Regions from separate parts of the Homo sapiens genome. Here all the other regions are linked to region 1. Evidence: fine-mapped expression QTL. A gene starts in region 1. Each other region holds a variant in brackets. All regions are shown on one strand. Distances are between the middles of the regions. Region 1 holds the start of PPP1CB (protein phosphatase 1 catalytic subunit beta). Region 2 has its middle 26 kb from the start of PLB1. Region 3 has its middle 42 kb from the start of PLB1. Region 4 overlaps SPDYA (speedy/RINGO cell cycle regulator family member A). Region 5 holds the start of LOC124907746 (a long non-coding RNA gene).

What was found. PIP is the estimated chance that this variant, and not a neighbour inherited with it, causes the effect.
Region 2: its variant is fine-mapped to the expression of PPP1CB in whole blood (TOPMed, PIP 0.94).
Region 3: its variant is fine-mapped to the expression of PPP1CB in whole blood (INTERVAL, PIP 0.90).
Region 4: its variant is fine-mapped to the expression of PPP1CB in whole blood (TOPMed, PIP above 0.99).
Region 5: its variant is fine-mapped to the expression of PPP1CB in whole blood (TOPMed, PIP 0.91).

Annotation. Positions count from the first base shown.
Region 1 is chr2:28,749,664-28,755,555 of GRCh38, reverse strand. PPP1CB (protein phosphatase 1 catalytic subunit beta) reads right to left here and starts at 3,726. Exons shown (of 8, transcript NM_002709.3): 1 at 3,380-3,726. The coding sequence starts at 3,431. It overlaps PPP1CB-DT (PPP1CB divergent transcript), which reads left to right and starts at 3,800. Exons shown (of 5, transcript XR_007086259.1): 1 at 3,800-3,913; 2 at 5,171-5,892. RefSeq lists silencers at 169-382, 3,074-3,293, 3,784-3,973 and enhancers at 3,156-3,800, 4,104-4,313.
Region 2 is chr2:28,467,251-28,473,142 of GRCh38, reverse strand. No RefSeq gene overlaps it. Among named protein-coding and RNA genes, the nearest start is that of PLB1, 26 kb to the left of the region's middle. The variant T/C (reference allele first, on the strand shown) is at 3,538.
Region 3 is chr2:28,451,232-28,457,123 of GRCh38, reverse strand. No RefSeq gene overlaps it. Among named protein-coding and RNA genes, the nearest start is that of PLB1, 42 kb to the left of the region's middle. RefSeq lists enhancers at 4,367-4,880, 4,881-5,394. The variant C/G (reference allele first, on the strand shown) is at 2,905.
Region 4 is chr2:28,819,895-28,825,786 of GRCh38, reverse strand. SPDYA (speedy/RINGO cell cycle regulator family member A) reads right to left here. Exons shown (of 8, transcript NM_182756.4): 5 at 3,377-3,462. Among named protein-coding and RNA genes, the nearest start is that of SPDYA, 12 kb to the right of the region's middle. The variant A/T (reference allele first, on the strand shown) is at 3,182.
Region 5 is chr2:28,672,030-28,677,921 of GRCh38, reverse strand. It overlaps LOC124907746 (a long non-coding RNA gene), which reads left to right and starts at 2,673. Exons shown (of 2, transcript XR_007086257.1): 1 at 2,673-4,764; 2 at 4,932-5,109. It overlaps LOC105374384 (a long non-coding RNA gene), which reads left to right. Exons shown (of 3, transcript XR_939878.3): 3 at 1-883. The variant A/G (reference allele first, on the strand shown) is at 2,694.

The DNA of each region.
Region 1 (5,892 bases):
AAACACTATGGTAAGCCACAAGAATGTGGCCAACAGGGTCACTACAGGGGATAAAGTAGAAGTCTTTGGTTTTTAGTTCTAAGCAAAAGTTAATCCAAGAAAACATACCGAAAGAATATGCACCGTCCAAATAATAAAATCAATATTTCTGTTTTACATTAAATGGCATGTTTGTATTAAAATGACCTAAAGGACTCTTTGAAAATATCATATCAAGGTCAGGCGCGGTGGCACATGCCTGTAATCCCAGCACTTTGGGAGGCCGAGGCGGGTGGATCACTTGAGGATGGAAAGTTCGAGACCAGCCAGGCCAACATGGTGAAACTACTAAAAATACAAAATTAGCCGGGGCGTGGTGGCATGCTGTAGTCCCAGCTACTTGGGAAGCTGAGGCAGAATAATCGCTTGGACCTGCAGGGGCAGAGGTTGCAGTGAGCCAACATCACCCCACCGCACTCCAGCCTGGGTGACAAGCGCAAAACTCCGTCTCAAAAAAACAAAAAACAAAAAAAACTTATCAATAATACGCCCACCTAAAAAAGAAAAACAAAAAGCAACTCATAAAATGTAGTCACCAGAAGTGTGTATAGCTGATCTGCGATTTAATACAGTAAAAAAGAAAAAACAATCAGGAATATGTTGTGGGGCTACAATCAGCATTTTAAAATGAGATCAGGTCCTGCTGAATGTTTTCCCCTAATGCAGAGAAATTCTTGCCAAATTTTTACTTACACGTTCATTTGACACTAAAAACACTAACCATAGTTATTCTTGCTAGGCAGCTTTACAAAATATCACTAACTAGCATCTAATATCACTGAAAATCCAGGTGGACAAAATTTTCTTTGAAGATTAAAAATAATTATTTACTAGAAAATTCAAGTCTGCTCTGGACAAGTCTTTCAACAGGTCTGGATCTGGGAAGGAGCTGAAAAACCTAGAATATTTAAGAATCCCTTGGGGGCACTGTCAAACTAAATATGCTTCTGTAGGATGAAGAAGTACTGATAGAATGTGTGCTGAACATAGGACAGAGAGGAGGCTGAAAAAGCCTGAAAGACACTTGTTTAGACTGGGAGCTCCTTGAGTGAAGAGACTGTGTCTTATCTTAGGATTGCTGGTGCCTGGCAAGGAGGAGGTCAACTTGTTAACGCTTGCTAAATTAAGAGAGAAACGTATCTGGACTACAATTCTTACCCGCCCCCCCCCCGCCCCCCCAAAAAAGGAAAACAGATTGTACAAACCAAATATTTAATTTGAATTCACAAAAACAAATGGAATCACTTATTTTTCCCCCAGTGTCTTTTCTAGTAACCTTGCACAACCCACTCGTGAAGTTTAAGTACCTGTAATCATATAAAGGTGCGTCTAATTTAAAAGGATACAAACATTTTAAAACATAAATCTGTTTTATGCCTACAAAATATATGGAAAATGAAATAAAATATAAATAAATTGAGATACAAACATATTTTTAAAATATTTAAATTTACAAGCAAAGTTTAAAATATATAAAAATATGCCGGGCGCGATGGCTCACGCCTGTAATCCCAGCCCTTTGGGAGGCTGAAGCGGGTGGATCACGAGGTCAGGAGTTCAAGACCAGCCAGGCCAAGATGGTGAAACCTCCGTCTCTACAAAAATACAAAAAAAATTAGCCGGGCATGATGGCGGGGTGCCTGTAATCCCAGCTACTCAGGAGGCTGAGGCGGAAGAATCGCTCGAACCCGGGAGGCGGAGGTTGCAGTGAGCTGAGACCGTGCCATTGCACTCCAGCCTGGGCGACAGAGTGAGACTCCGTCTCAAAAAATAAAAATAAAAAAAAAATAAAAAGGAGTAGGCCTCTACTTCCCAAATGTAAACAAGACATACACATTTTTAAATTAACTGTATTTCCCTCATAAAACAGTTACAAAATACAATTATTTTCAAAGCAAATTTCTCAAAGACCCAGCAAGATGTTCACATCTGAAACAAAGTCTTAGGTAGTGAACACTGACTGCAGGCACCAGGGGGCCTCCCAGGAATAACTTGATAGTAAAGGAAAAGGTAAATAAGAGTTCCTGGTAAAACTTTTGCTTCCTATTCAGTCTTAAGACTGCTGGATGGCTTTCACATCTGGAGCAAATACACAGTATTTAGTTACAGAACAGGTACTCACAGAACTTGGGTTTGAGATACCGACACATACTTTGAGAAAAAGGAATTACCCCTCCCCCATTACAATATTCTTTGATGATTTTCCAAATATAAGTACATACTGCTTCACTCTAGCAATTATCTTAAGGTAATTTGAAAGCAAACAGTACATATGCAATCGCTGGACGGCGGCTAACAAAGAGGCCTCTAAATTGTTTAAAAAGGATTAAAGGCTTTTCTACACACTCACAAAACAATTATTGATGACGAAAACTTTAGGGTAGAGGGACTGTTTGGCAGAAGACTGCATTTAACTTTGAATAATATCCTGCAATGAATCAATACATTTAACTCCCGGCTAGTCCACCTCTTCGTTTTCCCCCCTTGCCTTCCCACCAACATAAAACTATTCAATAAGAACACTTGAGCCCGGAAAGTTCAAATGCTGCGTAGACCTACAAATACCTTTCGAATACAAGACAGGCTTTAAAAATAGATTTTCACTAAGTTTGTGCAGAAATTAAGCTCTGCTCAAATCAAATGCAAAAGCCAATCCCTTCAGCAAACCCATCTACATACATCACATTTCTTAGGTGCATCTTCAACCTGATCAAATATCTTGTCTTACAATTTTTTTAGGCCAAGTAACAAACGGTAGATTAATTCCCGCTAATTTTATCCTCTCTTTAAGAAGAATCCATTCTATATAGCATTGTGTAAAAATGCAGAGCAGACGAAGCAGTCCTGTTAAGGACAGGTTTATATATATATACGTAAAATTCACTCCCGGAACGACAATCGGAGGCAGCCAAGGGCAATGCACAAAGAGAACAGAGAAGAACAGTGATTCCACGGACGCACAAAGCCCAGTGGCAGGCATCCTCTCCCCATCCTCGGGTCACCGGAGGCGAGCACCACGGCGCGCGGAGCCCGGCGGCCTTTCCGAAAGGCTGTCTCCCGCAGACCCGCTCCGCACAGCCTTCGGCCGGCGGGCCTGGCCCCCGAGGGTCCGCGGGAACGGCCCCCTCTCCCCCGATCTCCCCTGACCGCGCTCCCAGAGGCCGCTCCCCCGCGCCCAGAGCCTCCTCGCCCCCTCCTCGGTTCGTCCGCCGCGCCGCGCTCCCAGAGACTCGTCTCGGGGCGGGAAAGGGGTCCCCTCGCGTTCCGGCGGCAGACGGGGACGCAGGGGTCGGCGGCGGTGCCCGACCTCCCTCTGTCCCGCGGCCAGGCGCGCACTCACCCTCCAGCAGCCGGGTGATGAGGCTGTCCACGTTCAGCTCCCCGTCCGCCATCTTGTCGGCACAGACTCTCCTTCCCAGCAGCGGGAACAAGGGCTTCTCGGCGGCGGAGGCTGCGGCGACGGCTCGGCGTTCTCTCACCTACAAGTCACGCGGCGTTTCGACCCCGGCTCCAACTCCCCCTTTTCCCGGGCCCTCCCCCCACCCCCTCCCCGCCGGGTAGCGAGAGCGCGCGCACACTCGGAGGCACCCACGGAAAATAAATAAATAAACAAGAGAGGCCCCCTCGAACAGGGCCGCGTCAGACCCAGGCCGCCACCTCCTCCTCCTCGGCACCGCCCAGCTCCGCAAAGCTCACCAGCGCCGCCGACGGCCCCACCCGCAGCGCCACTCACTCCGCACGTCCCTTGCGCGCCGCCGCGTCACGCAGCTCTCCGCGCAGGCGCGCGGTGCGCTCCCCGCCGAGGCTCCCCTCGACGCCTGGGCCGCCGCGCAACCGCACTGGAGCGGCTTCTCCCGCTGCCGTCTTCGCGCAGGTGCGTCGCCCTCTCTCCACGTCCACGGCGCCGAGTCTCGCCACGGTGGCGCAGGCGCCAGGGAGGTTCCCCGGCTTTGCCGCGCGGAGGAAGTCCCGGTTACGCAGAGCGCGCTGGGGCAGGGCTGACCTTCCCCTTTCTCTACTTCACTGGCCTCCTCCAGACGTGGTGGTTGCGCCCTTTCGGCCTCGCTTTCCGTTTTTTGGCTTCATCCCCTAGATCTGCAAACAGTTCCTCGTGTTTCTTCCGTTAGCCGGGAAACGCGAACTGCAGCGTTTGGGACCCGGGTTTGCGCGTGTGGAAAGCAAAAGGGGTTACTCTGCTGGAGTTCGACATTGCAAATAAAGGTCTTTATCCCCGGCGGTTCTACAAAATTAGTTCTGCAGGGATTCTGGTTGAAAGAAGCGTTAAAGTGGGCCTTGTAGGAGTCAGCAATAATCCAATTTTACATGGGTGCAGGTGGCTGCCTGTGTCTAGCGCTTTCACACATCTCATATCTTCATCCACGCCGTGGGTATTTTTTTTCCACGGTGTGTTTCTGTTGCTGCCTCCAGTATATTGCTTAATCATCCTACCTGGTAATTATTTATGCATTTTTCTCCTACTCTCGACTCAGCTCCTAGGGAATAAAAACACATTAACTTATCTTTGTGCCCACAGCACCCACCAAGTATTTCCATCACGTAATACTGCCTCTAGAAAGGCAGGAGGAGAAGCAGTCACGCTAAGGATCTAGGCAAGCCAGATCTTTTGTCCGGTTTTAGGAGGTGGCCAGCCCTTACTTATTCCACAAGTGTTTTTCCAGAAACTCAGACTTGATATTGCCTCAAGTCCAAGGCAGTGTGCTTCCCCCACTCACATATCACTAATAGTAGCTAACATTTGTTCAGATCCCTGTATGTACTCTGCCACTGTTTTAAATGTTACACCCGGGTTACCTCATTTAATCCTTACAACTGCCCTGTGAGGTAGGTACTATTATTATCTCTACTTTGTAGATGGGATTCACCGAGGCACAGACGGTTAAAAAACCTAGCCCAAATAACACAAATAAACAGCAGAGCATGCAGTGCTAGAGTCTGCATTCTTAACAATTGCTATATTCTCCCTCTCCGTGAATGTGGGCTGAGATGCTGAAACAGGCATGTGCTGTGGGGGAGAAAAAGCTTTGTCCAACCAAGTGCTTTCTAATGTCCAGATGACATAGAGCTAGGATTTCCTAATGTCTTTTTTCCCCTATTTTTCTCTCCATTTCAGGGTTGAGTTTGTGCATCGATTGTGAACACAACAGGCAGCAGGCTATAATGGTGGTCCTGGCTGGAGTAGTTTTCACAGACTTCAGTAATCTGTGGAGATGAACGGGCAGTTCTCTGTAGTTTTCACAGATCACTGCCAGTTCGTTTTGAGGCCTTCAGGAGTGAAGACCTGGCTCATCATCACTCTTTGTTGTTTTGTTAAATTTATTTACACCCTACTTTATTCCAGAGGAAAGGATTTAACGTAGTTTACATAAATGTGTACATCAGGGTAAATTAAAAATAAGTACAGAGAAAAATAGGACAAAAGAAAACCGTGAGTGTGAAAGATAAGATTAAGCCAGCAGTTTTGTATGCAAAATGCATGGTGTAAGGTCCTATTGGTTTGCTGGAGGTAGGCCACACATATGACTCTCAGTTTTCTAGCAACCAAGAAAAAGATCAGTTGCAATCGGAGTAGGTGTTTTGGCTAAGCTGGAACTAGGACTTGAATATAGCAGCTTGTAGAGTTATACCACTTGCCCAAATCTCTTCCATGAGCCTCTTTAAGTGTAACAGAATGCCTGGGAGCACGTAAATGCTCCTACTTAGATGCCTACTTAGCCTCTAATTTTCATGGGGCCCATGAATCCCATGAAAAAGAACTTTGAACCCTGTCCACAATTAGAGTTCAGGTATACGCAGACATGTTTAAAGACAAGGGACACCCAAAGGAAAGATTGC
Region 2 (5,892 bases), 280 kb after region 1:
CAATCCCTTAGCTAGACATAAAGATTCTCCAAGTCCCCACCAGACTCAGGAGCCCAGCTGGCTTCACCCAGTGGATCCTGCACTGGGGCCGCAGGTGGAGCTGCCTGCCAGTCCCGCGCCATGTGCCCACACTCCTCAGCCCTTGGGCGGTCAATGGGACTGGGTGCCATGGAGCAAGGGGCGGTGCTCGATGGGGAGGCTCAGGCCACGCAGGAGCCCATGGTGGGGGAGTGGCGAGGCTCAGGCATGGCGGGCTGCATGTCCCGAGCCCTGCCCTGCAGGGAGGAAGCTAAGGCCCGGAGAGAAATTGAGCACAGCAGCTGCTGGCCCAGGTGCTAAGCCCCTCACTGCCCGGGGCCAGCGGGGCCCGCCAAGCCCACGCCCACCCAGAATTCTAGCTGGCCCACAAGCGCCGTGCAGCCCGGGTTCCCGCCCATGCCTCTCCCTCCACACCTCCCTGCAGGCTGAGGGAGCCAGCTCCGGCCTCGGCCATCCCAGGAAGGGGCTCTCACAGTGCAGCGGCAGGCTGAAGGGCTCCTCAAGCGTGGCCAGAGTGGGCACCAAGGCCAAGGAGGCACCAAGAATGAGCTGAGGGCTGCCAGGGCTGCCAGCACGCTGTCACCTCTCACTGGGACTTTTATTTGTCCATCAGTAAAGAGGAAGAGATCATCACCAAGGTCCCTCCCCTGCTGAGCATCATTCCAGAGCACCATCATGGAGGAGACGTCCCTGCCCCTGTCTTCACTTATATCCTCCCTGGGCCCCTGTCTTCACTTATATCTCACCACATCCCATGGGCATGTTTTGGGGTCACACCCCCAAAGCCACAGGGCCCATGTGTGGGTGGAAGGAAATTCCTATTCATTCAACATTCTGTGAGTGTTGGGCCTTCAGTGAGCCAAACCCATTTTAGGTGTTATGTGGAAGACAAAAAAGAGACAAGATGTGATGCCTGCCCTCAAGGATCTCATCATCTCTGGAGAGATAAGATGAACGTACTCAGAAAATAATAAAGTCTAGAAACATAACAGGAAAGTGCATGGAAATGTACACAGAGGCACCAAGTGCAAGTGGGACTCTGGGGGCAGCTGCCTGGGGAGGGGAGATTGGAGGAGGCCTTGAAAGGGTGATGTGCCCTTGCTGGAGGAGCTGGGGCAGCGGCATGGAGCTCAGGTATGACAAGATGGGTATGGGGTTGGCCTGGCATGTCTGACCAGGTGGGGTGGGGCTTCCCAGAGATGGGGTGACACAGGTGTGGCTGCTTCATTCCATCCAGGCCCACAGACCTGGGCCCAGGACCAGCCAGCACCACAGGTCCAAAACCACATTGGACAGATGTCATCCTGTAGGAACATGTTCCCCGAGGAGGGTCCCTTCAGCCCTAACTAGGATGCCTGGATACACAGACACACAGCACATCCTGGCCAGGGCGGGGGCTGTGGGAAGGATCCAAGCATTGCACTGCAGCTTTTATCACACCTCACCCTTCTCCATCCCCACAACCAAATCGATAAAGGGTCATCTCCTACCTGAACCGTTCACAAACTCCTTTCTCCCTCTTCCTGTCACCCTCACAGCTGGCCTCTTGCTCTCTTCGCTGGCATGATGGGTGCCCTTGGGCTTCTCCCTGGGCTCTGCCAGCTGGACCTTCAGCCTGGGACAAGCCTTTCTAGGCAGTTCATCCCTGAGAACACTGTGGTGGCCACATGAGGGAGGCAGATCCTCCCCCGCCCTGGCTCCCGCCCATATCCCAGCAGGCTCCTCCTCCTGCACTCTTCATTGGCTTCTTCCCTTCCTCCCCTCATCACCGGGCTTCTCCTCAGTGCTGTCAGCTTGGGCCTCTTCCCTTCACCCATGATGCCTGTGGCCTTCTGGAAGGGTCACATGCCCCTCTCCCAGACCCTCAGGGCCCTCCATCCTGAGCCCAAGCCCTCCCTCTAGCCTTAACCTGAAAGATTCCCTCAGAGCCCGCCACATAGTTCTAGGGCCACGCTGCCTCTGTGTCTTCGTTCCAGCTGCACCTTCAGCCTGGAAGGCCTTCCTCCTGCCTTCACCTGATAAGTCCCTTCCTGCCCTCCAGATTCACCTCGAACCCCACCTGTCTCAGAGCAAAATGCACATAAGGGTGCACTTTGGAGTCAGAGACCTTGGCCCTTAATTCCTGCTTGGCCACTTTCCAACCATGTGGACCTGGGCAAGTCACTTCACATCCTTCTGAGTCTGTTCAATGAGTAATAAACTTTCCCAGTTCATGAGAGGAGGGGACGATCCCTAGCTCAGAGGTGAGAATGGAATGAATCAGGTATATGGAGTGCTCAGCACAGCACCTGCTCCTGGTCTGTCCTCAGGAGTGCCTGTCATTGGGGTGTGTTTCTGGTCCCCTCTCACCAACTGTGGAGCTTCAGAACATTCTGAGTCTCTCTGACAGCGCCCAAATTGGACGTTCTTTAGAGCTGGCAAACTCCTCTCAATTAGAACTCTTCTTTGCACCCCTTTTGGTCTTATACAAAATGTTTTTGTTGAATGGAAATAAGGATTCCCCTGTCCTGAAAAGAACAAACACTTCCTGTGGCTGGAAGTGCCCAAAGCCAACAAACGCCTCTCTGCCAGCACCTGCCTTCCGACCCTGAGGCCAGCCCAGCACCTCACCTCACACCTCACCCCTGTGTGTTAGACCACTTTGGCCTTTTTCTGGTTCCTCCTGTGCCTGCAGCAGAGTGACCTTGGACAGGGAAAGGCCTGGCTGAGCAGAGATGACCCCCAATAACAGCCAAAGAAGAAGCTGTGCTCGTGCAACTGACAGAACCTGCCCACCAGCCAGGCTGCTCCTCACAGACCTTCTTCTCGTGCTGTGCAAACAGAATGAATGGTGCCAAAGGCCAGGTGGAGTTACACTATTGGCATGGGAAGAGGCCTAAGGTGTTCATATTTTTGTATGCACAGAACAAAAACTTTGAAAGGATATCCTCCCACTTCCTCCTCCTCCTCCTCCTCTTCCTCTCCTGCTCTCTTCCTCTTTCTTCTCCCCCTCTTCCTCCCCCTCCCCCTCCTCCCTCTCCTCCTCCCCTTCCTCCTCCTCTTTCTCCCCCTCCTCCCCTTCCCCCTCCTCTTCATCCCACTTCCCCTTCTCCCTCCTCCTCCTCTTTCTTCTCCTCCTCCTCCTCCTTCTTCTTCTTCCTCTTCTTCTTCTTCGATTTTCCTGCTTTAGCTCCATTTTTCAGGAAATTATACATTTCCCATTCTATTTGTGGGCAGGGTGTGTAGCTCACCCTTCCCGCAAGGGGGAACATTTTTCTGGCTTTGTTGATTTCTGTATTATTTCTATTTTTTCAAAGAGATGAAGTGTTTTTTTTTAAACAAGTAAAGAAAAAACAAAACATTGAATGAATAAATAAGTAAATAAATACATGGCTTTAGCCCACGCTCTCCCTTTTCAAGAATTTGCTCTTCCATAAATCCACCTTCCCCCAGGGACTTACTCAGTTTAAGCAGTCAGTGATCTTCCAACTAGTCCCCTTGGGATAGAAAACTGAAGAA[T/C]TGAGGCCCTGTGGGGGTGGCTGTGGAAATCACACAGCCAGGGCTGTCCCAGTTCCCTGCCATCACTATGACTAAGGCAATGCCTGCTGGCCAGTATCCAGCCAAAATCCCTCCAAGGATGGGGAGAGAAGAGAAGCCTCTCTTTCCAGCACACCCAGAGTGGCCCTGATTGGCTAGGCCAGGGGCACTGGATCAGCATCTCCCAGGCTCAGAGAGTTTCCTTCCTAAGGCCCCAGGGTTCTCTCCCACCAGCTGACCTCAGAGGATCTGCCTTCATCTCTTAGAGATGTGAGAAATCATGGTCCCCAGCAAGCAGGAGGCAGGTTCCTGAGGCTGCTCAGGGCCACTGCACAGCTGACACCTCCTTCCCAGCAGCCTTCCAGCTCCACCTGCAAAGGAACGTGTGAGAACGGGGTCCAAACCGTCCCATCATGCCTGTCCTTCCCCCAGGACAGTAGGTGTCTACTCACAGAAGTCCACACAACTCAAAGCAAAGAGAACCCACTCAAGGCGGTGAGCAGAGTCTCTCCTTATCCAGCCCTCTTCCTAAGAGAAGAACTAAATGACCAGGCAAATCAGAGGTGTCACCACACACAGTGACAAGGGGAGCTCTTGTCCAGCTGGACTGGGCCTCACTTGAAGGCTTATTGGGGAATTAGTTAATCAGCAGTCCAGCAGCCTCCCGGAGCCCCCAGACAAATGGAAAGGACATTTCTGGGGTTCATCTCCCAGCCCCCTTTCCTGCCCTCTACCCAACCATGCCCTTATGCCTCATACTCCAGTTAGACTAAATGCACCCAGCACTCATCATTTATGAGGCTTTGCATACGGTAATTTCTCAGCAGAGACCACCCCCTTCCCTCCCTCCTCCCCCGCCTGGATAACTCTTACTTCAAATGCAATCCGTGCCCCTGGAAAACCACCCTGCCATTTCCCCTAACTTCCTTGGTGTCCCTCCTCTGGCCAGGCCCACTGGCACCCTGTGCCCCCAGAATAGCCCTGATCCTCAGTCTTTTGTGGATCATAGGTCTGTCTTTGTATAGATGCAGGAGTCCTTGAGAACTTTGCCTTTCTATAGCCCCAGTTGCCAGCACCTAGCAGCGCAGCACTGAGTAGCTGCTCAATAAAAATGTGTTGAAGTGAATAAAGCCATGAATTAGAATGTAGATTAAGACCTAGAGGCCAGGAGAGGTGGCTCATACTTAGAATCCCAATATTTTGGGAGGCCGAGGCAGGAGAATTGCTTGAGAACAGGAGTCCAAGACTAGCCTGGGCAATATGGCGAGACCCCATCTCTACAAAAAAAAAATAGTTGGACTGTGTGCCTGTGGTCCCATCTACTCAGGAGGCTGAAGTGGAAGGATCCCTTGAGCCTGGGAGGTAGTGAGCCATGATCCTGCCACTGCACTCCCGCCTGGGTGACAGAGAAAGACCCTGTCTCAAAAAATGTTTAAAATTTAAAAAATTTAAGAAGACCTAGAATTTAAACTCCTCCCATTGGTACAAGGAAGGAGTGAAATGAAGGCTCCTTCTCCTGACATCCCAAACTACATCTGATAGTCTGTTCTGCCTGTTGGCCAGGCCCCAGACCTCCACCTTCTGACTCTATCCTCTCCTTGCCCTTTGCCTCCATGAAGCTCTTTCTAACCACCCTGGTGTCTGAACCCCCAAGCCCTTGCTGCCTGAGCCCTTCACCTGCCACTCGATTGGTCCTGCTTTGGTTCCTGATTAGATGTGGGCCTGATTCTTCTCCCTACCCAGGGCTGAAAGCTCCAAAAAGGCAGCCAGCCTGGCTTCTGCTCCTTTGCCTCCCCCAAAGGAGAGGTGCGGGGTATGGCCCAAAGTCTGCATTTCATAAATTAGCAAAATGGCTGAGTGAATTGATGAATGGCTTAATTTCCAAGGAGGGTTTCACATTATTACACAGCTCCCTACATCCCTGTGGGACTTGGTGAATCTCTTGTGCCTTCTCCAAAGAACGTGTGCTATGGCACATGGCACATGTAGGCATATTCACACTCCTCTCAGTGTGCATAAGACCCTTTGGGTCCCCTACTACCCCACACCTTCTGAGTGCCCGCTGCTCCCACCCCAGGTTCACATGTTTCTTTCCCAGCCCTACTGTAGAAGAAAGAGCTCAGGGGCTGAGGGCAGGAGCCTGATGTCACCTCAGCTTTGGTCCTGACTTGCTGGGAGGTTTGCCCTCTATATGCCTCACCTTTCTGTATCTATGTATTTTCTTTCTTTCTTTCTTTCTTTTTTTTTTTTTGAGACAGGGTCTTGCTCTGTCACCCAGGCTGGAGTGCAGTGGCACGATCATGGCTCACTGCAGTCTTGACCTCCTGGGCTCAAGTG
Region 3 (5,892 bases), 300 kb after region 1:
AAAAAATGACGCAGAAGCGAAAGCAGAAACTCCCTATTTAAAAAAAATCAGATCTCATGAGACTTACTACCATAAGGAAAGTATGAGAGAAAGCGCCCCCATGATTCAATGATCTCCCACCGGGTCCCTCCCACAACACGTGGGAGTTACAGGCGTATCATTCAAGATGAGATTTGGGTGGGGACACAGAGCCAAACCATATCAAGCCCCTACATCCAGAAAATGCAAATTTCATTCAACGCTAAAAAGAAATGTGCTGCCAAGCCATGAAAAGACATGGAGAAAACTTAAATGTATATTATTAAGTGGAAGAAGCCAGTATGAACAGGGTGCATACTGTATGATTCCAACTATATGACACTCTGGGAAAGGCAAGACTACGGAGACAGCAAAAAGACCAGTGGGTGCCAGGGGTTGTGGGGAGGGAGGGATGAACAGGCGGAGCACAGAGGATTTTTAGGGCCGTGAAACTACTCTAAGATGCTGTGACAGTGGATAAAGTCATCACACTTCGGTTAGAACTCATAGGACATCAACACCAAGAGTGAACCCCAATGTAAATATAGACTTTGGGTGATGATGCATCCATGTGGGTTCTTGATTTAATGAATGTACTACACATGTAGGGGCAGGGGTATATGGGGACTCTCTATACTTTGTTTTCAAATTTGCTATGAACCTAAAAAATAAAGTCTATTAGAAAACAAAACAAAAGGATCCCCAGATGCCCTGAGCTCTGTTTTACAAGGAGGGCCACCTGGCTCCTCAGGCCACAGCTCAGAAACCCCTGCTCTCCCTAGGAGGACTCACAGCCACATTTTCTCCTTTGCCTTTTAAGTGAGCTGTAGGGAATCCTTTGAGTCTCTTATCTGGGTCACCATTTAGGATAACTTCCACCGGAAGTGTCCTCTGCTTGGTTCCTTGACTTCAGTGTCACCTCCCCGGAGGCCTTCCCCAACTACCCCATTCCTAAGTCACTGTCCCTCCCATTATCTTGTATGATTTTCCGCCTAGCACTCATCATGTCTGAAATGAGCTCACCTGTTTACATATTTATTTTAAGTCACCCCTTTAGAGAATGCAAGCTCCACTAAGGCACTGACTGTGCCCCAGTGCCCAAAGCAGTGGCTGGCACAAAATAGGGGCTCAGCAAATATTTGTTGACTAAGTTATTTTGTTACTGAGCAGCAGCATAACCTAGGGCAAGGCAGTTAAACTTTTCTGGGCCCCAATTTCCTCATCTGTAAAATGGGCAACTACTCTTAATGATTGTGCTCCCTTTTCACGACAATGCTCTGAGTGTTGTCTCAACATGACCTTGTTTTGCCACGAAAGGACTTCTGCAGTGAAACAGGAGAGGTCCCCGATCCCCCTCAGGATGTGCCGCTTGCCTTTTCGGTCACCCCTGCTGCTCAAATCCCTCTCAGGAGGTGGAGCATGCAGATGGGAAGGTGCAGAGGCCAGGGTGAGCCATTTGGGCTCTGGCCCTACTGTAGTGTCTAAAGGTGGGTGCCTGCAACCCCAGTGTTACAAAGCTCTTTCAGCTTTGCTGTCCGCAGACAGCATGTGTTAACCAGCTCAATGGACCCTCTGCCTTTTCGCAAGGGCAGAGGGCCAGTGTGACAGCTCTCTGTATCACAAGCTCTTATCCAGCATCCCGGAAAAACTGGGTCACACATGGGCTTGAAGGATGAATGCGAGGTTTTATTGAATGGTAGAGGTAGCTTTCAGTGGGACGGATGAGGAGCCAGAAGGGGGGTATGGAGTAGGAAGGTGATCTTCCCCTGGAGTCAGGAGCCCAGCAGCCGGACTCCTCTCTGACCGTCCCCAGTCAAACTCCTCTCCATGTTCAGATGTTCCTCCTCCTCTCTCTTTCTCTACTGCATCGTTCCACTGTCCGTCTGCTGGTCTGCTGGCTTGCTCGTCTGTTTCTGAAGCCTGGGGTTCAGGGTTTATATGGGTGCAGGATAGGGGGTGTGGCAGGCCAAAAGGCAACTTTTTCCGCTCAAAAACAGGAATGCCTGTCCTCATTTAGGGCCGTGGGTCTTCAGGCTTGAGGGTGGGGCCTTTGCCAGGAGCCACCCTCTTCTACCCAGTATTTCCCTGTCTCCTGTCCGTATCACCAGGCCATCTGGATGAGTACTTATGGAGAGAGTTCCTAGCAGCTTAGGATGTTGCTTCACCTTGCAGACTTGAGTTTGCAGATGCCAGAGAGAGGTTGGAATGTGTGCTAAGTAGATTGGGGTATGTGAAAGTCTCTCCCCTAGAAGGTCAGCCGTAAGGAGGCAGGGATCTTGTGTTTTATTGATTTTTATGGCCCAAGAGTCTAGAACAGTGCCTGGCACCAAGGAGGCTCAACGAATAGTTATGAAATGAGCACAGGAGGAATGCTGGACACGTCATTGACAGTCAGAACATGAACTTCCATTCTTGGGTGAGTGTCGTGTGGTATGGAAACAGCAATAATAATGCCTTCCATTAGTGGAGCCCTCTGTAAGGTGTTTACACACACATCATCTCATTTGATCCTCATGACAACCCCATGAGATAAGTACCATTAAGTGTTATTATCCCCAATTTACAGATGAGATAACTGCGGCTCAAAGAGTTCAACCTGCCTGAGGCCACATAGCTGGTAAATGGCAGAGCCTGATCTTGAACCCAGGATTTTCTCGCCCTAGACCCAATGCTCTTATCTGCCTGTGTGTTGCTGGTCATGCAAAGCTCTGAGTGTGAGCAGCAGCTGGAAGCCTCACATGAGAGCCAAGGCCCTGAGGAGAGCCACCGTGGAGCAGACAGAAGAGCTACCTGTGACTGAGCCCAGGCCTGCTGTGCACACGGAGGCTGCCAGAGCTCTCAGCAGCAGGGGCTGGGTGAGAAGCAGGAGAGGCGGGTGAGCTGGGC[C/G]AGGCCCCTCTCAGCTCCAACAGTGGCCAAGTGCCCCTCTCGGGGAGCTCCTGAAGAGACCGCAGGGCCTCACGTAGGCACCGCCACCCTCAGGCCCAGACATGCATGGCTCCAAGCGGGCCCTTCACAGGGCACAGATGATGCCAAGGATGTGGGCAAACTGGTTTGAGGAACACAAAAACCAACTCAGAGTTTTCTCCCTTTCCTCAACAAGGCACCAGACCTGGCTTGTCACACCCCATGCCAAAGAGAAGTCTTCAAAGTGGTGTTTGCTTAGCCCCCACATCCTCCTGACTTTGCCAAAGTCCCTTATGTCTCCCTGAATCATACCTATGCACACGCACATGCACGCGCGCGCACACACATACACACACACACACACGGTGCCCAGGCCACCCCAGGCTCCTTTCCCTGGGAGCCCTCGAGCTGAGCCCTGGCCCACCTCTGTCCACAGCAATCCTTCGCACTCATCCTGCAGGCTCTTCTCTCTGCTGTCTGTTCCAAAGGCGCCTTCCCTCTTCTATACTCCAGAGCCTGCCCCAGGCCCTCCGCCCTGGTTCTGGCCATGGGGGCTTTCCACTAGATTTATCTGTACAGGTGACCGCTCCCCGTGTAGCCGCCAGCTCCCTGAGGGTGGGGCTCAGGTCCCTGTGCTGGGACCCACCTGGTCTAGGGGTCACAACCGCTGGCCACCCTGCATCAGGCCCTGTCAGGGAGCCCTGGGAGTCAGTAGTTTAGCAAACCTGTCTGGGGCCTTCCCCCTAGAAGCCACGGGGGCAGTCATGAAGAAATGGAGGGTGAAGGTGGGTGAGGCCAGGACAGGTGGCGGTCCACACACTTGCTGTGTTAGTCATCAAGGGCACCCAGCAGGGCAGAGGTCATCCCTAAAGCTGTGGCGAAGGGGATGGGTGGGGAGAAGGAGACAACGCATGCCAGGGAAAAGGCATCATGTCAAAACATCTTGCTGGAAAGGCAGTTTTCCTTCCAAACTCCCCAACAAGACCCGAAACGGTAAGTGGAAGGATGTCTTGATTAATCTCAGGCTGACGTTTTGCATTTGCTCTTGCAGCCAACACACACCGAGCCATCAAATCACCCTCCTGCTCCGTGCCAGACTCCGAACATGGAGTCCTCATTCCTGCCTCAGCAGCACTGGACAGAGCTTCTCTGTCCTCCCCCCTGGAAACGAGCCCCCAGCACAGGACCAAACAGATCATTGCTTCTACCTAGTGGAGCTAATAGCTGTTCATTGACCACATAGTCACTGGTCCCCTACTCTCCCAGCCCCTTGCTAAGCACGTCACATGCATTATCTCATTTACAAATGGGGTGGTTCCCAGAGATGGTTCTGGGGACCACAGTGGAGTGGGGAGGGGGCACTTCTGACCTGAGTGGAGTGAAAAGACAGCTGGCCCAGTCTCTTTTTGCGTCTGCTGCCCAGCATCATTGTCAACAGAGTCCACCTCATGCTTAGGAATGGCCCGGTTTGGAAGGTCAATTCTAGGTTCAGAGATTGGCCCAAGGCACCCTGTACCTGAGAGGGGCAGACACTAGAGGGCGCAAGGGAGCTGCGCTTGGTGGCCCAGGCTCAGGGATGTCAACTGGGCTGCAGCCTTGGGGCAAGGGCTATCTGCAGAGAGTGGAGGTGGGAGGCAGGTGGGGGGAGCGGGGGAGAGTGCCTAACCCTGCTCCCTCACAGAGCCCTTGCCCAGACCCAGCCCTAGCCCACATCCTCTCACCTCCATCAATCGCCCAGCAGGAGCCTGACCGGCCTGGGAACACAAGAGGGAAAAAGAGGTTCTGGGCCTGGCCTCTCCCCTCTCCACCACTTCAGCCCAGCCAGGCCCCAGCAAGCCTCTCCCCTGGGCTGGAGCCCTCAGACTCTCAGGCCGCTCTCCCGATGGGCTGGGACTGCAAATGAACCACGTTCTGGAAAAACAGCCAGGCCGTGCATCAAAGAAACTCCACGGCCCTCCAGGGGGTAGGTGTGGGGCGGGCCGGAAGCAGGAGGTGGAAGGACTGATAGAGCCCTTGGTTAGGAGTTCCGGTTCGGAACACCTTCTCCTCCTTAACCCACCCTCAGGAGCCACGAGGGCTCAGTTACAAGGCTCAGGTGGCAGCATCCTGGCCTGTGAATCAGGCTGACCAGGGTCCCTGCCCCGCCTGCTCCCACGGCCACAGGGCTTGTAACCTATGAAAAGCCCACTTCTCATGGTCCTAGCCTGGCCAGAGGTTCTGAATGTGCCACTGCCCCGTCCAAGACTCTGCCCGCAATCAGACGTGGGGCAGAGGGGGCGCCTCCAGGAGGCAAACTTTCCATTCCCACTGGGACAATGCCATGACCCCAGCCCCTGCTGACTCCTCTCCAGCCAATGGATCAGGCCACAGGAGGCCCTGCCTGCCTCCAGAAACTGGACGCCCCAAGCCTCTAAGTCCTCTTCTTGAGAGAAGGCCACATAAAAGGCAAGGTGGTGACGTCTTAGAGGCACGTACTTCGGTGTCCCACAGACTTGGGTATAGGTTGTATCTCTGATATTAGCGCCTTGGGCACAATACTTCACTTCTCTAAGCCTGGGTTGATTCACCTGTAAAAGGTAATAAGAACATCTACTTCACAAGGCTGGTGTAAGGATTAAATGCTACAAAGAACAGAAAGCGCAGAGCCGAGTTCCTGGTGCCCAAGCCAGCAGGAAAGTGGAGGAAGATGCTCTGAGCAGCACCTGCAGGGCCCTTCCGGCTCAGCCCAGTTTCTCTCTGCAGTGGAGTCCCAGTCTGCAAGCTAAGAACGGAGATGGACTTTCAATCCCAGCTTGGTATACATGGTATACACGGGTGAATTTTCTATTAGACAGTGGCACCAACGGATGTAGGAAGCCATGAATGCCTCGGTGTCAGCAGCCTCAGCCTAAGAATCATTCATTCATTCATTTGTTCATTCATTCACTTATTCAACAGACACCTTTTTGTCCAGACAGTCCCAGATTACAA
Region 4 (5,892 bases), 70 kb before region 1:
CAGCCTGGGTGACAGAGTGAGACCCTGTCTCAAAAAAAAAATTAAGAACCTCCTATATGTTAGTAATTGAAAGATGAAATAAAATGTTATATGTTCCTTGCCCATAAGGAGCCTACAATTAAGTAAAGAAGGCAAGTAAGCATGAAACAAATAATTGTGAAAGGTAATGTGGAAGAATGATAATAGAAGTTCAGAGTCTTATAAGAATACATAGAAAGGAAACATTATAAGACTGTATAGAAAGGAAAAGAACTTGAGCTTTAGAACTATGGCTGAGAAAATATTTAACGAGGAGAACTATTGAGGCCATACAAAAAGTATGATTAGTCTTAAAATGGAAATTATAATTCATGTTATTTTTAATATGGAGCTTACATAATACAACATGCAGTACAACCTTACAGATAATTGTATTGCATAAACTCAATAGTGCTCTACTGGTAATAACTTTATAAAACAAGTTAAACGAATTCAATTTCAGGCATCTAGTAAGATTTAAACTAAAGCTTCTTTTGGTTTGTTTTTAATTCTCAGGTAAAAAAAAAACACAAAATAAATATTGCATCAACATAGATACAATACAATACTGAGATATATAAACAGCAATTTAACTTAGTGGTTGATGGCTGAATTTGGTCATTGATAACCACTCCTGAGTTTGTGCCCCTGCTTTGCTGCTTACTAACTTGTTTGTTCTTAGAAAGTACTTAATCTTCCTCTCAGTTTCCTCATCTGTAAAATGGGGATAATAAAAAATTTATTTCATAGGGAAAATTAAATGAGTTAATACTACATTAAAATTTTTTGTGGTGCCTTGCACATAGTACTCAGTATTACCTAATACTATTATATTTAGCAATCATCCTAAATTTTGAGTTCATTTTTCCCTGTGCACTGGAAAATATATCTCCTGAATACAAGTAGAAATCAGTTTCTTTGGCTGGGCGCGGTGGCTCACGCCTGTAATCCTAGCACTTTGGGAGGCCGAAGCAGGTGTATCATGAGGTCAGGAGATCAAGACCATCCTGGCTAACACAGTGAAACCCCATCTCTACTAAAAATACAAAAAAAAATTAGCCGGGCGTGGTGGCATGCGCCTGTAGTTCCAGCTATTCAGGAGGCTGAGGCAGGAGAATTGCTTGAACCTGGGAGGTGGAGGTTGCAGCAAGCTGAGATAATGCCACTGCACTCCAGCCTGGGCAACAGAGAGAGACTCTGTCACAAAAAAAAAAAGAAAGAAAGAAAAGAAAAAGAAAAAAGAAATCAGTTTCTTCTAGTCCTGTTTTTTTTTTTTGTTTTTTTTTTTTTCTCCTGACAGCATCTTGCTCTGTTGCCCAGGCTGGAGTATAGTGGTGATCATAGCTCACTGCAGCCTTGAACTCCTGGGCTCAAGTGATCCTCTTCATCTCAGCCTCCCAAGTAGCTGGCACTACAGGCACATGCCACCATGCCTGGCTAATTTTTTTATTTTTATTTGTGTAGAGACTTACTATGTTGTCCAGGCTGGTCTTGGACTTCCAGCCTGAAGCAATCCTTCCGCCCCAGCCTCCCAAAGTGCTGGGATTACAGGCGTAAGCCACTGTACCCAGCCTAGTCCTATTTCTTTAATAACTCTTTGATTCTGAATTAAATACACTTTGAGTAAAAACTTTACCTTCAGTGCTGACAGCTATTGTGGTATTCAACTTAAATATTTTTTATATGTGTTCTCTAGGTAAACACTTAAAATTATATTCATATGGCTGGGCGCGGTGGCTCACGCCTGTAATCCTAGCACTTTGGGAGGCTGAGGCAGGCGGATCACTTGAGGTCAGGAGTTCGAGACCAGCCTGGCCAACGTGGTAAAACCTCATCTCTACTAAAAACACAAAAAATTAGTTGGGCGTGGTGGTGGGAGCCTGTAATCCCAGCTACTTGGGAAGCTGAGGCAGGAGAATTGCTTGAACCCGGGAGGCAGAGGTTGCAGTGAGCCAAGATCACGCCACTGCACTCCAGCCTGGGTGACAGAGTGAGACTCCATCTCAAAAAAAAAAAAAAATTTTATATATATATATATATATATATATATATATATATATATATATTCATGCATTCCCAACTACAGCATTATATCCAGCTATAGGGTAGAAAAGGAAATATACTCTTTTTTTTTTTTTCTTTCCTGAGACGGAGTCTTGCTCTGTCTCCCAGGCTGGAGTGCAGTGGTGTGATTTCGGCTCACTGCAACCTCCACCTCCCGGGTTCAAGCGATTCTCCTGCCTCAGCCTACCGAGTAGCTGGGATTATAGGTGCCCACCACCACGCCCAGCTAACTTGTGTATTTTTAGTAGAGACAGGCTTTCAACCATGTTGGCCAGGCTGGTATCGAACTCCTGACCTCAGATGATCCACCCGCCTCGGCCTCCCAAAGTGTTGGGATTACAGGCGTGAGCCACCGTGCCTGGCCAGAAACATATTCTTAAATAATGCAAATTCCAAATGTATTCTGACCTATAGATTGGAAAACCATTTCACAGATCACAATGAATATAAACTAAAGTCAGTGGAAGAACTGGAAAACAACTGTATTCCTTTGTCACAGCTCAGTGTGTTTAGTAAAAGAGCCAGTGAATACCAATGGTATCAAATACGAATAATGACTATGTTATAGATATAGGTCCACAAAGACTATGTTTAGAGCATTTTCCACAAGTTGTTCAATGTAAAAGGGCAATGATGATGGTGATTTTTACTATATATTAATTGAAAATTTCAGAGAATATTCTGGTTTTAAAAAATATCTAAGTCACAAAGAGGAGAATTTGGGATAATTTATATGGAAGCATTCTGAAAAATGTAAAACATGCAATACAAATTGAAGAGGAATACTCCAAGAAATCTTGGCCAGGCGCAGTGGCTCACACCTGTAATCCCAGCACCTTGGAAGGCCGAGGCGGGCAGATCACGAGGTCAGGAGATCAAGACCATCCTGGCCAACATGGTGAAACCCCGTCTCTACTAAAAATACAAAAATTAGCTGAGCGTGGTGGCACGTGGCTGTAATCTCAGCTACTTGGGAGGCTGAGGCAGGATAATCACTTGAACCAGGGAGTCAGAGGTTGCAGTGAGTCAGGATTGTGCCACTGCACTCCAGCCTGGCAACACAGCGAGATTCCTTCTCAAAAATAAATAAATAAATAAA[A/T]AAGGAAATCTTAGGCATATAGCATGATAAGTGAAAAAAACATAAAAATATCCTATTAAAGTAAAAAACATACAGCATTTATACAGGAAGGCCTATTCAAAGATATACATAAGGTTTTAAATAGCCTCTGTTTTAAATAAGGTGTAATGTATATAATAGATAACACAACAATCACTTAGTAGAAAGTATACTTACAGAGCAATAAAGAAATTTATCCTGGTATGCTCACTTATAGTAAATTTAGCCCTCTTGAAATAAACAAAGGTCATAGCCAAAAGATACTATAAGGAAAAAAGTTAAAAATTAATATTAATGTTTTGCTTTCATAAATAAAACTGCTTTAAAATAGTTAACTTTAAAATTTTCTGATGAATAAGCTAAAACAATAAAGTGTTACTTATTATAGAATTGTGTACTTAATTTTTGGATTCCTGTAATCCACCATGTGAACAGTGAAAAGTAATTCTTGACTATTTATTATATCATTATAAACTAGAATGGACTCCTAAATTTTATTATTGCCAATAGTTTGAGCTAAAATCCCACTTTTATCTAATTTAAATTTCAAACCTATACAGAAACTGAAATAACAGCAAAATGAACAGCCATGCATCCTCACTTAGATGCACCAAATTTGCCATGTTTGCTATCTCTATTTGTGTGTATGTATGTGTATATATAATTTTTCTAAACCCTTTTAGTTACAGACATCCATACTCACTTTTTAAAATAACTTTTTAAAATGATTTCCAAATGACTTCAGAAATTAGAATAACATGGCTGTATTTTCATGGGGAGAATGTGTTTTAAATGTATTATTAGAAAGATACATCTCTAGCCTGATTATTAGCACATATGCCAGGTTCTGTCTGTTCAAATTAAAAACAAGTTATAATAATGTATCAGATTATCTCTCGTAAGACATTTATTCATCCTATTGTAACAGGATTTGCCACAAAGGTGATACCAAGTTTTCACAGTAACTTCCAGTAAAGTACTCTTGAGATCGTGTTAAGACAGTACTCCAGGTAGTTACTTTTCCAACACTGCCCCCTTCTGCACAACAACTTTACTGCACCTTAAAACCATAAAGTTTAAAACTTCCTGACGGGCGCAGTGGCTCACACCTGTAATCCCAGCACTTTGGGAGGTCGAGGCGGGTGGATCACAAGGTCAGGAGTTCAAGACCAGGCTGGCCAATATGGTAAAACCCCCATCTCTACTAAAAATACAGAAAAATTAGCCGGGCGTGGTGGCACATGCCTGTAATCCCAGACATTTGGGAGGCTGAGGCAGGAGAATTGCTTGAACCCGGGAGGCGGAGGTTGCAGTGAGCTGAGATCACGCCACTGCACTCCAGCCTGGATGACAGAGTGAGACTCCATCTCAAAAAAAAAAAAAAAAAAAAGAAAAAGAAAAAAAAAAAATCACATCATAACTCCACATGAATTGTATATTTGATATTACAGCATTACTGTTAATTTTAAAAGTTCTATGACATTGTAATTGTTTTAAAACAGCTCTTAACTTTTAGTGATATATTGTGAAATATTTATGGATAAAATGTTAGGATGTCTGGGATCAGCTTCAAAATAATCGTTTTTGGTGAGAGGCATTAGAAGAAACAAGAACAGCCACAGTTGATCTATTGTAGCTAGATGAGATGCATATGGAGGCTCTTTGTTCTATTCTATTTACTTCAAATTGTGTATGTTTTAAATTTTCCAAAATGAAATTTAAAAAATTTTATAAACCTTCTTCTAGTGTATCCCTGTCATCTTAAGCTTAAATAAAAATCTTCACCCCAGTACTTTGTATTTAATCACAAGCTAACCTTCCACTCATTCCCTTTACTGTTGGCTAGTAGTGATGTAAAGTCACGCTTAATTTTCAAATATGACTGCTTGGTACAAAATGGCATTTACAAAGCTGAAAATTCTTAGCACGAGAAATATTTTTCTAAAAGAAAAAAATTGAAAAATACAAAGCTGAAATTTTATTTTATTATTATTATTTTTTTGAGACAGAGTCTCGATCTGTCGCCCAGGCTGGAGTGCAGTGGCTCGGTCTCGGCTCACTGCAACCTCTGCCTTCTGGGATCAAGCAATTCTCCTGTCTCAGCCTCCCGAGTAGCTGGGACTATGGGTGCGCACCACCACACCTGGCTAATTTTTGTATTTTTAGTAGAGACAGGGTTTCTCCATGTTGGCCAGGCTGGTCTTGAACTCCTGACTTCAGGTGATCTGCCCGCCTCAGCATCCCAAGCGCTAGGATCACAGGTATGAGCGACAAAGCTGAAATTTTAACCATTCAACAAAATCTAAAGAATATAGAAACATCGCTGCTCCCAGTGTGTAAGTCAGACATTCTTTTATGAAACACTGATTCCTAAACAACATGTTAAACTAATTTTACCCTACAAATTACTGAGATTTGTTTTCTCTGACTTACAAAATACTAAAATGCAGACTACCTTAGTAAAGTAAATCTCAGAATATTTTTTCTCCACAGCCTGATAAAAGGTAATAACTGATCAAAATGTATTAAGTCTATACTGATTTTCTGTTTGTGGTTCTTTGGTTTTTGTTCGTTTTTGAGACAGGGTCTGGCTCTGTCACCCAGGCTGGAGTGCAGTGGTGGTACCACAGCTCACTGCAGCCTTGATCTCCCTGGCTCAAGCAATCCTCCTGCCTCAGGATAAAATATATATA
Region 5 (5,892 bases), 78 kb after region 1:
ATGCACACACACACTCTGATTCTCTCTCACACACATGCACGTGAAATTCACTGGTTGGGGTTTCATTTTCCCAGAGCTCAGCTCCATGTATTTTTCAATGGGAGGCAAGAGAAGAGTGATCCTTCCATTTCAGGTAGCATTTGCTCATTTAAACCCTGATAACGTGTTTTCTAACCTCCAGGCAAAGTATATGCTGGCCCATGTGGCAAGCCACCCATAAGAATGAGAGAAAAGCGCCCTCCCTCTGGGCAGTTATGGGCCTTGGTGGGCAGAGTTTGGGTTGGATTCCAGTCCCTACTTGCCTCTACCCTGGAGACCTTTGTGCTCTGAGCTATCTCACAGATACTTTGGAGGAGTGATTCTAATGGGAAGAACTCTAGGCTGGGGAAGGAAGGGAAAGTTTTAGGGGTAGATGAAGCCTTGTAGTTGCCCACAGATCATCCCATGTAGGTGTCTGTCTATTCTGTGTGCTCAGAGAGCTGGCATTGCAGGCTGGGCTATGCCTCACTGACTCAGCAGGATTGATTGCTCAGCGCCCCTGCAAAGTGCCTAACACTGCAAGGAGCATCAGTGCCCATTTTATGTGACCAGTTTCTATGGCCCCTTTAAAATGGGCCATAATTTTAGAAACATGACTTAGTTGATCACTTGATCATGTTTGATCAATCAAGGTGACTGATTTGGGAAGTAGGCAGGGTAAGAATATTATAACCATCTTAAAGATGAAAAAACAAAGACTCAGAGAGGTAAAGTGCTATGCACACAGTCACTCAGCTGGTAAGCGGCAGGGTTGGAACCGTGCTCCTCTGGTTCTGCCAATTAGGCAGCCATGTCATGTTGCCTCCTACCAGACAGACTCACGAATGCCGGCTTGAAGCTTAATTTTCTAGAATGTATAAATATTTAAGAAGTCCTGGCCAGGCCCAGTGGCTGGCCTGTAATCCCAGCACTTTGGGAAGCCGAGGTGGGTGGATCACTTGAGGTCAGGAGTTGAGACCAGCCTGACCAACATGGTGAAACCCTGTCTCTACTAAACTACAAAATTAGCCAGGCGTGGTGGTGTGTGCCTGTAATCCCAGCTACTCGGGAGGCTGAGGCAGGAAAATCACTTGAACCCGGGAGGCGGAGGTTGCAGTGAGCTGAGATGCACCATTGCACTCCAGCCTGGGCAACAAAAGTGAAACTCCAACTCAAAAAAAAAAAAAGTCTTTTGTGCCTCTGAAGTATGGGCCATTTGCCCCACACATTCTCTCATGTCCAATCAGCCATTCTGATGGATTCCCCAGCAGTATTACACATAGGTTTAGCACTTAATGTTCTACAGAAGCCTTTTGCTTACAGCAGTCTAGGAGGGTGCCAGGGCAGGTATTCTGTCCATTACATACGAACAAATGGAGACCCAGAGAGGACAGGTGGACTGCCAAGCTCACATGCCTGGTTTGGGACGAGCATCCAGGTCTCCCCATTTTCAAGTCCAATGAGCTTTCAGCCATATCATGCTGCCTCTTCCCCAGAGGGCTTAGGAAACAGGAGAAACTGCCTACAGGAAATATGCTTCACCTTCCTCCACAGACACAGGCTTCTAGGAGAACCAAGCTCCATGGAAACGGAGAGAGAGAGTGTGTATATGGCATTTCTTTTAGGGCCACTCCAGTTCTCATTAGAAGCTGATGAACCACAGCATATTTTCATGGTGGGTCAATCCTAATCCATGTTATCTTCAAAACAAACCAGAATAATTGAATTACAGAATGTCAGAAAAGAAAGAGAACCCCAGAGCCTTCTTTCTAGTCTAATTCTCTCATTTTACAGACGAGGACATAGTTTGGGGCTATGATAGAGACAGGTGAAATGATCTGCTCAAGGCCACCTGCCTAGTTAAGGGTAGAGAGAATATTCTACAGTCCCACGTTGAAGTTGTTAGCTTGGTTTCTGCCTACGTATATTCACGATCTGGGGATTAGGTCCTGAGAAAAGTGAATGGCTGTTGTCATTTCTATCCTATGCTTTACTCTGAAGGAGGCCCAGGAGGGTGACAGAGTGAGGAACGTGGAATACATTGGCATCATATTGGTCACTCTTTGAAATCTGTAATCTGGCACCCCCCAACCTTGATTTCCTATAACCTGGAAGAAAAAAAACAATCTTTACCTCAGCATTGGCCTTGAAGACTTCTGAGTCCTAAGCCTGTGCTCCATCCCCTGCAGATTCCCACTGTTCTCTGGGAGCAGTTGCTCTTTCCACACACATTTACTGAGCACCCATTTCATACCAGGCCCTGTGCTAGGCCAGGGGACACCCAATAAGCAAGACAGACATGGCTTTGATCCTCAGTCTAGCAGAAGCAGAAAGGCTGCTTAAAATGATTCATCCTGGAATTTATTATTTATTTCCTATTTTAAAATCTTTTTAGAGACAGGGTCTTGCTGTGTTGCCTATGCTGGAGTGCAGTGGTACAATCATAGCTCACTGCAGCCTCAAACTCGTGGGCTCAAGTGATCCTCCCACCTCAGCCTCTTGAGTGGTTGGGACTACAGGTACATGCCAACATGCCCAGCTAATTTTTAAAAATTTTTTGTAGAGAAGGGGTCTTGCTATGTTGCCCAGGATGGTCTCAGACTCCTGGGCTCAAGTGATCCTCCTACCTCAGCCTTCCAAAGTTGAGGATTACAGGCGTGAGCCATCATACTTCT[A/G]TTATTAATCCTAGGAATGCCCTGGCATCAGCATTCATAACTCGGGCTGTTAGGTGTCCCTACTCATCTGTTCTGGATCCTGAGTTGCCTTTCCCAGTCTCTGTGTCTGAAAACCATTCCCTGTTTGTTTCCTGATGCTCATCCCAAATTGGATCCCAAATCCTGATTTATGGGAGCCTACATGGATGACTGCTGACCACACCCCTGTGTTCTCCTTGCCTGGCTTGAGCACCTAAATTTATCAGTGTGCTGGGTGTTGGGGATAGGATGCTGAACAAGTGACACATCACCCCCACTCTCAGGACTGGATGCTGGCTCCAGGCTGCTACCCTCTGGCCCGGGCTAGGCAGTGTTTTCCCTTTTCTCTTGGAACTGATGAGCATTGGCCATGGCTCTCTAATTCAGATGCTAAATCTTTTGCATGTTTTTGCTTTGATCTCATGTCAGTCTCTACCCTTGACTTTGACATTTGGATTCATGGTAACCTCCCTGATGAACTGGCCCCCAACTACAATCTCGGGCATGGCAACTTCCTGCCACTATGCTCACCAGCTTGGTCTACCTCCTAGTTCTCCTTCTTTCTGGCTCACTTCATCTGAAGCAACCATGGCCTAGAGCTGACCCATCATGATAACAGGCCTTCAATAAATATTTATGAAGTTGAGTCAACTCAGGAGCAGTTCAGAAATTCCAGGAACCTCTAAAAGAATACAAAAGAGTTGGCTGTCATATCATGATATGTTCCAAGTTGAAAATAACTCTTTTCATCTCTGTGCTTCTCCGTGCTCCAGAAATTTAAAAGAAAGCATAGAGTCTCATGGTGGGTGAGTCAGGGAGGGCCAAGGGGGCAGTTCTCCATATAGGACTTGCATATCTAGGAATAGTTTGCAGCCTCAAACCCAGCCCTTTGGGAAGCCTGGATGGCCCTGGATGTTGGAAGTGCTGGGAACAGGTCCTACCTGTTACTGGCTGATCTGGTGTGTTCTTACCTCCATATCTCTGCGTGATAGGCTCTGTCCACACAGAAAGCAGAAGCAGTGCCCATCTGTGAAGTTCTTTGTTTCCCTTTAATGCCTCTTTATGTTTTTGCATAGGCTGTTCACTCTGGGTTAGAAACCTCTCAGCCTTCATGAGCTTTCTTCATACCCACATAAGGTAGGTGCAGGCAACTCACTTGGGGCACCAAAGCTAAAGCCTTGTGCAGCCAATGATGAGGCCTTCCCTGAGGGGCAGCCAATGGCCATTTTTCCTGCCATCTGGCTCAATTCAGCCACCATGTCACTAACTGGAGCACACCCTGGTCCTGGTTTACAGTGAGCATTAGCCATGGCTCTCTAATTCAGATGCTAAGTCTTTTGTATGTTTTTGCTTTGATCTCATGTCAGTCTCTACCCTTGACTTTGACATTTGGATTCATAGTAACCTCCCACTTTTCCTGAATTTTGTTTGCATCTTGATGATTTCACCCCCAGAATGAGAGAAAGATTTTGCCTTTTGAAAGAGTGGTTGAGCCTATATATCCTGATGACACAGCCTGTAGGATGGCCCCCAATGCCCTCCACCTCCTGGTGTTCATGGCCTTGTGTAAGGCCCTCCCCTTGAGCTATACACGTATTCTAACAAATAGAATACAGCAAAAGGGATGGACACAATTTCTGAGATTAGGTTATAAAAAGACTGTGGCTTCTGTATCAGGTATCCACTCCTTTCCTTTTCCCTTCCCTCCCCTTCCCTCCCTTTCCTTCCCCTTCCCTCTCCTCCCCTGCCCTCCTCTTCTTTCTCTTTCTCAGATCATTCGCACTGGGGCAAGCAAGCTGCCATGTTGTGGGCAACTTTACAGAGAGGCCCACGTAGCGTGGTGAGAAACTGAGATCCTCAGTGCAATAGCCTGTGAGGACTGACACCTGCCAACTTACCAAAGAGTAAGCTCAGAAGTGGATTTTTCAGCCCCAGTTGAGTCTTGAGATGACGGAAGCCCGAGCCAACAGCTTGACTGCCATGTTATCAGAAACCCTGAGCCAGAATCACTCAGTTTAACCACTCCTAGATTCCTGACCCCCAGAACTGTGAGGTGAGATGTGTTGTTGTTTTAAGCTGCTAAATTTTGAAGTAGTTTGTTATGCAGCAATCGATAAATAATACATATCCCCATATAGGAACTGCAAATACACAGCTTTCATTTCTTCCCTAGCCACTCATTTATAACCTTCTTGTCATATGCCTTCTCTCCCCATCAAGGCTGCTGCTAGCCCATAAGGCATCTTTGTGCCAGTTATGAAACGGGACTCATTCTTCAAGATGCTTTTCTCCCTTTGGCTGGAAGATTGTCATAAATCTCCAATCTGTGAAGGGGGCCATGCTGTATTAGTCCATTCTCATGCTGATAATAAAGGCATATCTGAGACTGGGTAATTTATAAAGGAAAGAGGTTTAATGGACTCACAGTTCCACATGGCTGGGGAGGCCTCACAATCATGGTGGAAGACAAAGGAAGAGCAAAGGAACATCTTACATGGCGGCAGGCAAGAGAACGTATGCAGGGGAACTCCCATTTATTTTTTTTTTTAAGTTTTATTTTACTTTAAGTTCTGGGGTACATGTGCAGAATGTGCAGGTTTGTTACCTAGATAAACGTGTGCTATGGTGGTTTGCTGTACCTATCAACCCATTACCCAGGTATTAAGCCTGGCATGCATTAGCTATTTGTCCTGATGCTCTCCCTCCCCTCGCCCCACTGACAGGCCCTGGTGTGTGTTGTTCCCCTCCCTGTGTCCATGTGTTCTCATTGTTCAGCTCCCACTTACGGGTAAGAACATGGAGTGTTTGGTTTTCTGTTCCTGTGTTAGTTTGGTGAGGATGATGGCTTCCAGCTTCATCCATGGGGAACTCCCACTTATAAAACCATCAGATCTTGTGAGACTTATTCACTGCCACGAGAACAGTATAGGGGAAACCGCCCCCATGATTCAATTATCTCCACCTGGCCCCACCCTTGACATGTGGGGATTATTACAATTCAAGGTGAGATTTGGGTGGGGACGCAGCCAAACCATATCACGTGCCCTGTAGATTGCTGACTTTGTGCAGTGCATAATCCACACTACTGCATATAGCAACCCTGGCCCCACTCCTGCTGAAAATTTCGCCTCCACTGTTGTTGATGACCTGCTGTTTTGCAACCCTGATGATCTTTCCTTAG